3 separate regions of the Homo sapiens genome follow, and regions 1 and 2 are each linked to region 3. The links come from fine-mapping of genetic effects on gene expression. A gene starts in region 3. Each other region holds a variant in brackets. All regions are shown on one strand. Distances are from middle to middle. Region 1 has its middle 3.8 kb from the start of ANKRD66. Region 2 overlaps CYP39A1 (cytochrome P450 family 39 subfamily A member 1). Region 3 holds the start of SLC25A27 (solute carrier family 25 member 27).

Region 1 (2,763 bases), 90 kb before region 3:
TTCCACAAGTCAAGAGTGAGCTACTTCCACTATACTAAAAGAAAGAAGAAGAAGAAGAAGAAGAAGAAGAAGAAGAAGAAGAAGAAGAAGAAGAAGAAGAAGAAGAAGAAGAAGAAGAAGAAGAAAAAGAAGAAGAAGAGGAAGAGGAAGAGGAAGAGGAAGAAGAAGAAGGAGAAGGAGAAGGAGAAGGAGAAGGAGAAGAAGAAGGAGAAGGAGAAGGAGAAGAAGAAGAAGAAGAAGAGACAAAAAAGGTGCAAAATATTGTAGTATGTTTTGAATAAAAAAATAAAATTTTGACATAATACACAGGGCTATATAAAAATAAGGCCAAAATGAATCTTGATCTTATGAAAATATTAATTATTTGTTAACTACAAGTAGTAGGGTCTGCTAATGTGATATTCAGTTTGTATGATATATGTTTCTCAGTGCTCTTAGTGTGCCTTTGTGACTGAATGAAGGTCAAAAGTCTACATTCAACAGTCTCTCACCTATCCTGCAACAGGTCACAGAGGCCACCTGGGGAAATATCGATGGGCCAGTCATTGATCTTTGGTCCCATTGGCTCAAGCACTGGGACTAAAGTTTCTGGATAAGGTGACTTCCATGAGACCTTTTTTCCATAGAATCAAAGTCATTTTTAGATCAGGAAGAAACTCTGGAAATAATGAATCCAAAACTCATTTAACAGGTGAGAATATTGAGAGCCATTGACATTAAATTATTTATTTAAAGTAACACTGCTACTGTGTTTTCATTCATCTCTTACCACCTCCCCCACCCCAGCTAAGTTCAACATACAGAATAGATGCACAGCAACTGCATGTTAAGGGTTCAGTTCAGGGTTCAGTGTTCAGGGTTCAGGGTTGAGTGGGTGTGGTCTGGGCAGCACTGCCATCCATGAGCTGCTGACTCATGTTTGGGACACTGAGACTTGATTCTCTCCTACCTCCTTCCAATTCTAAAGAGGATGATAATAATAACAAACCTGTATAGTCTTTGTTCTAAGTACTTTAAAACACATTAACAAATTTATTTCTGTGGGGCAGTTACACTTATTATGCCTACTTTACAGAAGCAAAAACAAAGGCACGTAGTAATCAAGTTACTTCCTTAAGTTTACAAAGCTAGCTGTGGGACAGTTCTGGTAGTTTGGTTGCAATATCCATGTTCTTATCTACTGTGCTACATATTGCCTCTTGAGGTG[G/C]AAGTCAAACTTACATGCAAAAGTTAATGAAGTTAAGACTTCTGTCCCTGGGAAATAACCCAGTTTCAACTTCAATATGTATGAAAGAGGCAATACAGTAAAGGGACGGAATGGTGACTTGGACAATGGGAATGGCAGGAAGGAAATGGAATATTTGTTAGATGCCTTCGTGCATCAGGCATTGTTCTAAGTATTTTATGGATATTATCTCATCAATCCTAACACCAAGCCTGAAATACAGATAATTTGCAGGCAAAGAAACAGTCTCAGCTGCTCTGCCTATGGAGTAGCCATTCTTTTCTTTCCTTACTTCTTTCTTGAAAAAAAAAGAAAAGAAAGAAACTGAGGCTCAGAGGGCTTAAGCATACTCAAAGCAGGTCTCTGTATTTCTTGTTGAGTGTTATGAGGATGACAGCTGATAAAACTTGGTGCCTGATGGCGCTACTACCAAAGCTCATACCTCAGGCAAGTTCTAGAGTTCCCTGCATCTGGGACTAGGAGGGTGAGAATTGGGTTCCATCTGGGCTTCTGGATTATTCATTCCCTTCTATCTATATCCATTTTGCTGGAGCTTTCACAGGGCCTCCTAGTCAAAGAGTAGAACCTGAGATGACATCTTGGACCACCCGTGGGAAGAGCCTGGAGAAAAAGCATGTGTTGGATCTAGGATTCCAGCATTGCTGCTGATCAGCCCAAACTAGAAGTGTGTGTCAATCCATCAGGAAGCTTGTAAAATTTTGTTCTGTGGAGTTAGGATTTCCAAGTGGGCCATATTTCCTCTAAGGTGTTGTTTTACTAGCAGATACCAGCTTCAAAGACACAGCTATGGCTCTCCTCTCAGTCTCTCCTGTGTGCTGCACAAACTGAAGGTGGGCCTAGGTAGCTCCCTCACTCTGTAGACTTCGACTGTTGCATGGGTTTACAAAAGGGTTCTATATCACTGCCTTGGTATCTCATATCCCTCCCACCAAGGAGCCCTTGTCCAGACATGTCATCCTTTCTAGCCTCTCTGGTGGACCGATTGTCCCTGAATCACGTTTCTTGAAGGAGTCTCTTTGGGGGATACTTTTACATTTCAAATATTTCCTGAGCACCTGATCACACATGTGAAAAAGATCACATCTCTCTTTGAGTAGTTATTAATCTAGTTGAGGAGGTAAGATATTGCACAACAAAATGTAATCGAGGCTATGTTAAATGCTGTAAGAGGGGCACCGAAGCACTTGAAGACTGGTATATAGGAATAAGCAGGTATGCTGGACATCCTTCATTTGTCTCATCAGATCCACTCTCCATTTTTCCCACCTGGCACCCATGGGCTCTGGTGCCACTGGTTTCCAGTTGGGCCTGGGCAATTTCCAGCATGAGATTGAAGGATGGATGGAGAATGGGTTTGGAATATTTAGTCCCTCGGCCTCCTTCCTGCCTGAGTGCCAAGGGTTTGCTGTGAAGGTCACAGTTCCTCTCTGGTGGCCTTCTCTATAGAGTTGGTCTTGCCAGGTCACAGCTACTGCTTTCTCCTCTTGCTCCTGCAGGCCCATGCATGATAAGGGCTC
Region 2 (2,763 bases), 22 kb after region 3:
TCCTTTAACTCTCTGAATACGCACATAGTTTACTATTGCATGCATTTTCCCATTGCCATGCTCTATTCTCAAGTAAACATCTTTTCTTAAAAATAAAAAAAAAAGATAGTAGTATCTGCATCTTGGAGTTATAGTGAGGAGTGAAATGGGTTAAATACTTGCAATACACTTAAAACAGTACTTGCCCTTAGCAAGCAGTGAGTTGATATTAGCTCCCATTATTTCTATCACCTAGACATAAGTTATTTAAGATTAAAAGTAGATGAGTAACTTAATGAAAATGTTACAGTGTCTGAATTTTTTCCCATGATGGAGAGCCGTCACTGGCAAAGACAAATCTGGGGAAACCGCCCGATGAAGAAAATACTTTAGTGGGATTTGTTTGGTGACTTGAGAACAACATGTCTTGAGATGGGTAGCCTTGGATGGGGCCCTGCCCTGAGCTGTCACTGTTCAAGTCAAATGTCCGTTCTCTGTATGGTTTTAGAGTATTGTGGTATTTGTAATATTCTGGCTTGGCAGTTCTGTCTCCCATGGTGAATGGGCTGAGAATCTGTATGGTGGATGGGGGTGTAGTTTTCTCCTGAATGCACCAGAGATGTGTGTTTCTCTATTGCTTGCATTTTGCTAAGAGCAGAGGTTTATAAGACAGGGATTCCAGAGCAGTGTGGAGGGCAGAGATAATAACACACAATTTGCCAATTCAGTTTGGTAAAGTAGAGATCCAAAGTGCATTTTACCCTCTGAAAGGTTTTATTTTAAGCACTTTTTAGGTACTAACTCATTTAATTCTCACAACAATCCTACGAGGTAGGTACCATATTATGAACATTTTATGGATGAGGACACAGAGGCACAGAGAGATTAAAGTAGCTTGTTCAAGGTCATCCAGCTCTTAAATAGCTGAGCCAGGATTTGAACAAATGCAGTGAGGCGGTCAAGCTCCAGAATCCCTACTCCTAATTACTATACTACAGTAAGGACATAAATCCCTTCACATGCCTCAAACTGCAAAACCTGGGAATGGCAGAAATGATATCTTTCATATTAAAGAAAAAGGCATGATCTCTTGTTTATTAACATCGATATTTGTCACATAGCCATGGTTTGGCAATGTTTATTTCTTTTAAACAGACATTATTGCAAGCTACGCTGGATATTGTAGAGACGGAAACAAGTAAGGAAAACTCACCCAATTATGGGCTCTTACTGCTTTGGGCTTCTCTGTCTAATGCTGTTCCTGTAAGTATATTAGTAAAGTATGAGTTACGTTGCTCTCCACTGTCCTTTCATCTTTTTTTCCTTCATTTCTGTCTTCCATTCTTTTTTCCACTCATCACTCATTATGGAAAAGAAAAAAACTACAGTGGATTTGGTTGTGAGATAAAAACCAAAACTGAATGCCTAATGAAATCTGATTAGGTTACAAAGGAGACGAAACAGATCTCAAGCAAATTCTGTCCTCTGAAAGGCAGTGTGTAACAGGATGAGGGAAAAGCTTGCCCTTTGGGGCCAGTTGTAGACAACATCTGTTTATGGAACACTTTTTGTATGTCTACCAATGTGCTCAGTATTGGTATTGAAAAGATGAATAGGGATTGGCCACATGCTTTTATTGGAAAGAGTAAGTAAATGGATAGTT[T/G]CAGGTAACTTGGGCTTGGATCCAGACATCCCAATTTGTAGTTGTAGACTGTCATGGTGGTAATTTAAATTTTCTGTGCCTCCATTTCCTAATAAGAGATAATGTACTATTTTACCTAATAAGGGTAAAAAAAGGGATAATGTATGTGAACCTCCCACTGTGGTCTTAGAACTTGGGTGCTCAATAAATGGTAATTCTCATTTCTCTACAAAGTTGTTATGAGGATTTAATAAGATAAGCCTAGCTGGTATCAATGAATATTAGCTCTTTCTCTCCATTTGTACCCATTCTCCTTCTGTGTGCCATTCCTGTTTGCATTGCTTAGCATTATGGTCCTACAAGCTTCCGCATGAATGGTGCTGGTGAAATTGGAACTTTCAACACTTCTAAAGAGAGGCAAGACTTAAAAAACTGTTTTTTGTGGGTTTTTTTGTTGTTGTTGTTGTTTTGTTTTGTTTTGTTTTTTTGAGATGGTGTCTCATTCTATCACCCAGGCTGGAGTGCAATGGCGTGATCTCGGCTCACTGCAACCTCTGCTTCCCGGGTTCAAGCGATTCCCCTGCCTCAGCCTCCTGAGCAGCTGGGATTACATGCGTGAGCTACTGGGCCCGGCTAAAAAACTGTTTCTTTTAAAATCTGTCTTGCATTAGATTAGAGCCATGAGATTTGTCTGTCACGTCATGTTCAGTGCCAACAGTTTCCTGGGCCAGGAGGTTCTCACATTAGCCTAAGATGCTACTTATATTATCTGAAATTAAAGGGTAACTTTTTAAATATACTTGTTTTCTACTAAACAGGAGGATTTAACCTATCCATGATGATATGTGTGGGCATTTTTCTTCCTTTTTCTTCTAACAGATAGAAATTAGGAAGATGTTTTAAGTATTATTTATTTAGCCTTACTTTTATAAAGGCCTAGGTTGTTAAAGGCTTTCTCAGTCATGATATTCTAGTTTCCCTTAACTTGTTGAAAAATTTACTGCATAAAGAGAAGGGATAGAAATTCTGGCCTCTTTTCTCAAAGGTATGTTAGCCAGTGGAATATACATTTCATCTGATATGGTCAAGTAAAAGTAGTCTAAACCCTTCCCCTTCTTTATGTACCTATAATATTCTTCTCT
Region 3 (2,763 bases):
TAGATCTTTTTAAGCTGATGAATTTTATTTCAGTAAAAACAATGAAAAGTAAAAATTCTCCATCATTTTCGAAAGGAGAGACATTAAAAAATAGAGGGGCTAAAAGGCAAAAATGGAAGAGCACGAAACAACTGATCATGGCTGGCTATGCTAGAATTAAAAAATAAACTCTTAAAATAGGACCAACTAACATTTACAAATGATAACGCATCAGAACTGTTCTTTTTATTTTTTTGTAACAGGCAAGAAAATGTAAGGGTAATCTTAAAATACACAGTTAAGGCTTCACAGGAAACACATGAGTATACTACTCACAAAATCCTTGGAATAAACGCTACTTGCTCATTCAAGGGCATCATCATTCCACTCTAGATGGCCTCTTAAAGTTTTTTCTTACTCATGTAGGCAGATGTAACTGCTCTTCTATGCTTTTATGACACCTAATAATATCTTCATTATAACAAGTAGCACATTATAATTGTCTTTCTCTGTCTCCCCAGCAGCCTGTAAGAAGGTCAGAACTGGGTCTTTTCAAATATATATCCACAGTCCCTGGTATTGTAGGAATTATAAAAATGTCGCAACTAATGGGTGTCCTGCCTTGGGTTTAGCAATCATATATTATTGACTTCTCAGAATCCTGCAAGGTAAACAGTATAGATGAATTACACTCAAAGAGGTCAAGTAGTCGATGCTCTGTGAGTGGCAGGTTAATAACGGAAGTCCCACAAGGTAGGTCCACAACTTGGACCCACAAGATAATGACAGTGTGGCTGTGTAAGACTATAAACCACAGAGATGATCTCAGTAAGGATGGAAAACAGATTACGTTTTTAAAAAGGTCATCCTCATGAAAAGGAAAATGATTCCTACAGAGGAATGACAGCTCGCGAAGCTTCTTAAAGTACAACATTCAAGCACCACAGCACATGCCTAAGGGAAGCATTAGAAGAGATTAGAAGGAAAAGGCCGTGGAGACCTCAATCCCTCCTCCTCCCACCGCGGGCCTGGCCTCCACCGCCACCTCTGCCAGGCGGGCATGGAAGGGGCGACCTCTCCGATGCGCACTGCCGGGCGCGAAGCCGCCCGCGCACCCTCCCCCAGCGCGGCGCGTGCCACTGGCCCGGGAGGCCCAGGCGTGGGCAGCCGGGTACCTAGCTCGGCCACGGTAGCCGCGCAGCCGGACAGTAGGAATTTGCTCGCTCGGGGCCATCTCTGGGTCAGCGGCAAAAGCCTCTCCTCCTCCTCCGGGACGGACATTCAGCAGTAGCGCAAGACGATAACGCACTCCTTCTCGCCGCTGCGCTGCACCGCGCCGCGGCGGCCGCTTCCCTGCCAGGGCGGCCCCTTTTCAACCGGCGAGTGGCCGGGTGAGGACCATTTCCCTCGTTCGGCTCGGCCGGGTGGACCCGCAACCTTCCTAGCAGTCCCAGCTGGAGTGGTCCAGCTGCCCCTTACACCCCAGAATAGAAAAACACAGCGGAGCCCAGGAGGTTACTGGGCAATGTAGTCCGCCGGGCTCCGCTACGTCTCTGATTGGCCGGCCGCGGGTCCCTCTGCGGCTCCGCCCCCGGCCTCCATGGCAACGCGGCTGGTTCTCGCCCGTCAGTCCTAGCCCGGCCCTGCCCCTCCTTGCATTTTTTCCGCGCTGGCTGAGATTCAAAGAGAAGTGGAGGTGGGAGGGAGCGACAATGGAAAAATCACCTGAAAACTGGGACAGAGGAAGGAAGCTACAGTTACGAAGGAGAGCTGCAAAAGTTGCAGCAGAAAGGTTGGGAGTCCCGACAGGTTCCGTAGCCCACAGAAAAGAAGCAAGGGACGGCAGGACTGTTTCACACTTTTCTGCTTCTGGAAGGTGCTGGACAAAAACATGGAACTAATTTCCCCAACAGTGATTATAATCCTGGGTTGCCTTGCTCTGTTCTTACTCCTTCAGCGGAAGAATTTGCGTAGACCCCCGTGCATCAAGGGCTGGATTCCTTGGATTGGAGTTGGATTTGAGTTTGGGAAAGCCCCTCTAGAATTTATAGAGAAAGCAAGAATCAAGGTATGTGGTCGTGGCAGACGGGGTCTCCAGAGGAGACAATGCTTTCTTTTTTAAACTTTCTTTCATTGACTCTTAAGTGCAGGGCTAGAACACGGGGAACATACCTGCTTGCCTCAACTAAAGGATCTAGTCATTTCTGAATTCCTCTACTAACAATTAACAACAATATCCTGTGCAAAATTTTGCGAAAGAAATGAAATACAATTGCAGCGTGCATCGACATTTTTGGAAGTAGAGATTAACTTTTCGTATTTTTACTTCATCGAAGTTAAGTTCCAAATGTGTATGTGTTAAGTAAATGTTTTCAGTAATTGGGAAAGATAAAGTGTAATCCAATTTAAGTTTGTGAAAATGAGTAATTCGTATCCAAATTGGAGTTAACACCAAAGTATTGTACAAATTGCTTGCACAGTTGGTCCGTACACAATAAACAGGCTCTGTATTTTTAGCTGACGTTGTTATTTGATGATGATGTACTCCATTTTCACTACGGCCTGAAGAGACTAGTAATCCTCCTTGTAGTAGATGTTTTTGTCTTGAAAGTATCTTTTAAATGTCTGAGCACTTTAAGGAACAGACCTTTATTAATGTCTTTTAAGTTTTATTCAATTTCCAGTCACAAATATTTTATGGTATTTGATTGTCTAATAAATTTGTATGATATTATAATTATTCTTATGAATTATAATACTTTCTGTGGTGACCCATTTTCCATC

What was found. PIP is the estimated chance that this variant, and not a neighbour inherited with it, causes the effect.
Region 1: its variant is fine-mapped to the expression of SLC25A27 in sun-exposed skin (GTEx, PIP 0.90).
Region 2: its variant is fine-mapped to the expression of SLC25A27 in tibial nerve (GTEx, PIP above 0.99). The same link has a PIP of 0.9 or more in esophagus mucosa.

The regions. Positions count from the first base shown.
Region 1 is chr6:46,741,732-46,744,494 of GRCh38, reverse strand. No RefSeq gene overlaps it. Among named protein-coding and RNA genes, the nearest start is that of ANKRD66, 3.8 kb to the left of the region's middle. The variant G/C (reference allele first, on the strand shown) is at 1,208.
Region 2 is chr6:46,629,442-46,632,204 of GRCh38, reverse strand. CYP39A1 (cytochrome P450 family 39 subfamily A member 1) reads left to right here. Exons shown (of 12, transcript NM_016593.5): 6 at 1,135-1,242. Among named protein-coding and RNA genes, the nearest start is that of CYP39A1, 22 kb to the left of the region's middle. The variant T/G (reference allele first, on the strand shown) is at 1,643.
Region 3 is chr6:46,651,690-46,654,452 of GRCh38, reverse strand. SLC25A27 (solute carrier family 25 member 27) reads right to left here and starts at 1,478. Exons shown (of 9, transcript NM_004277.5): 1 at 1,155-1,478. The coding sequence starts at 1,260. CYP39A1 (cytochrome P450 family 39 subfamily A member 1) reads left to right here and starts at 1,635. Exons shown (of 12, transcript NM_016593.5): 1 at 1,635-2,047. The coding sequence starts at 1,871. RefSeq lists silencers at 1,041-1,140, 1,571-1,660 and enhancers at 1,321-1,450, 1,681-1,730.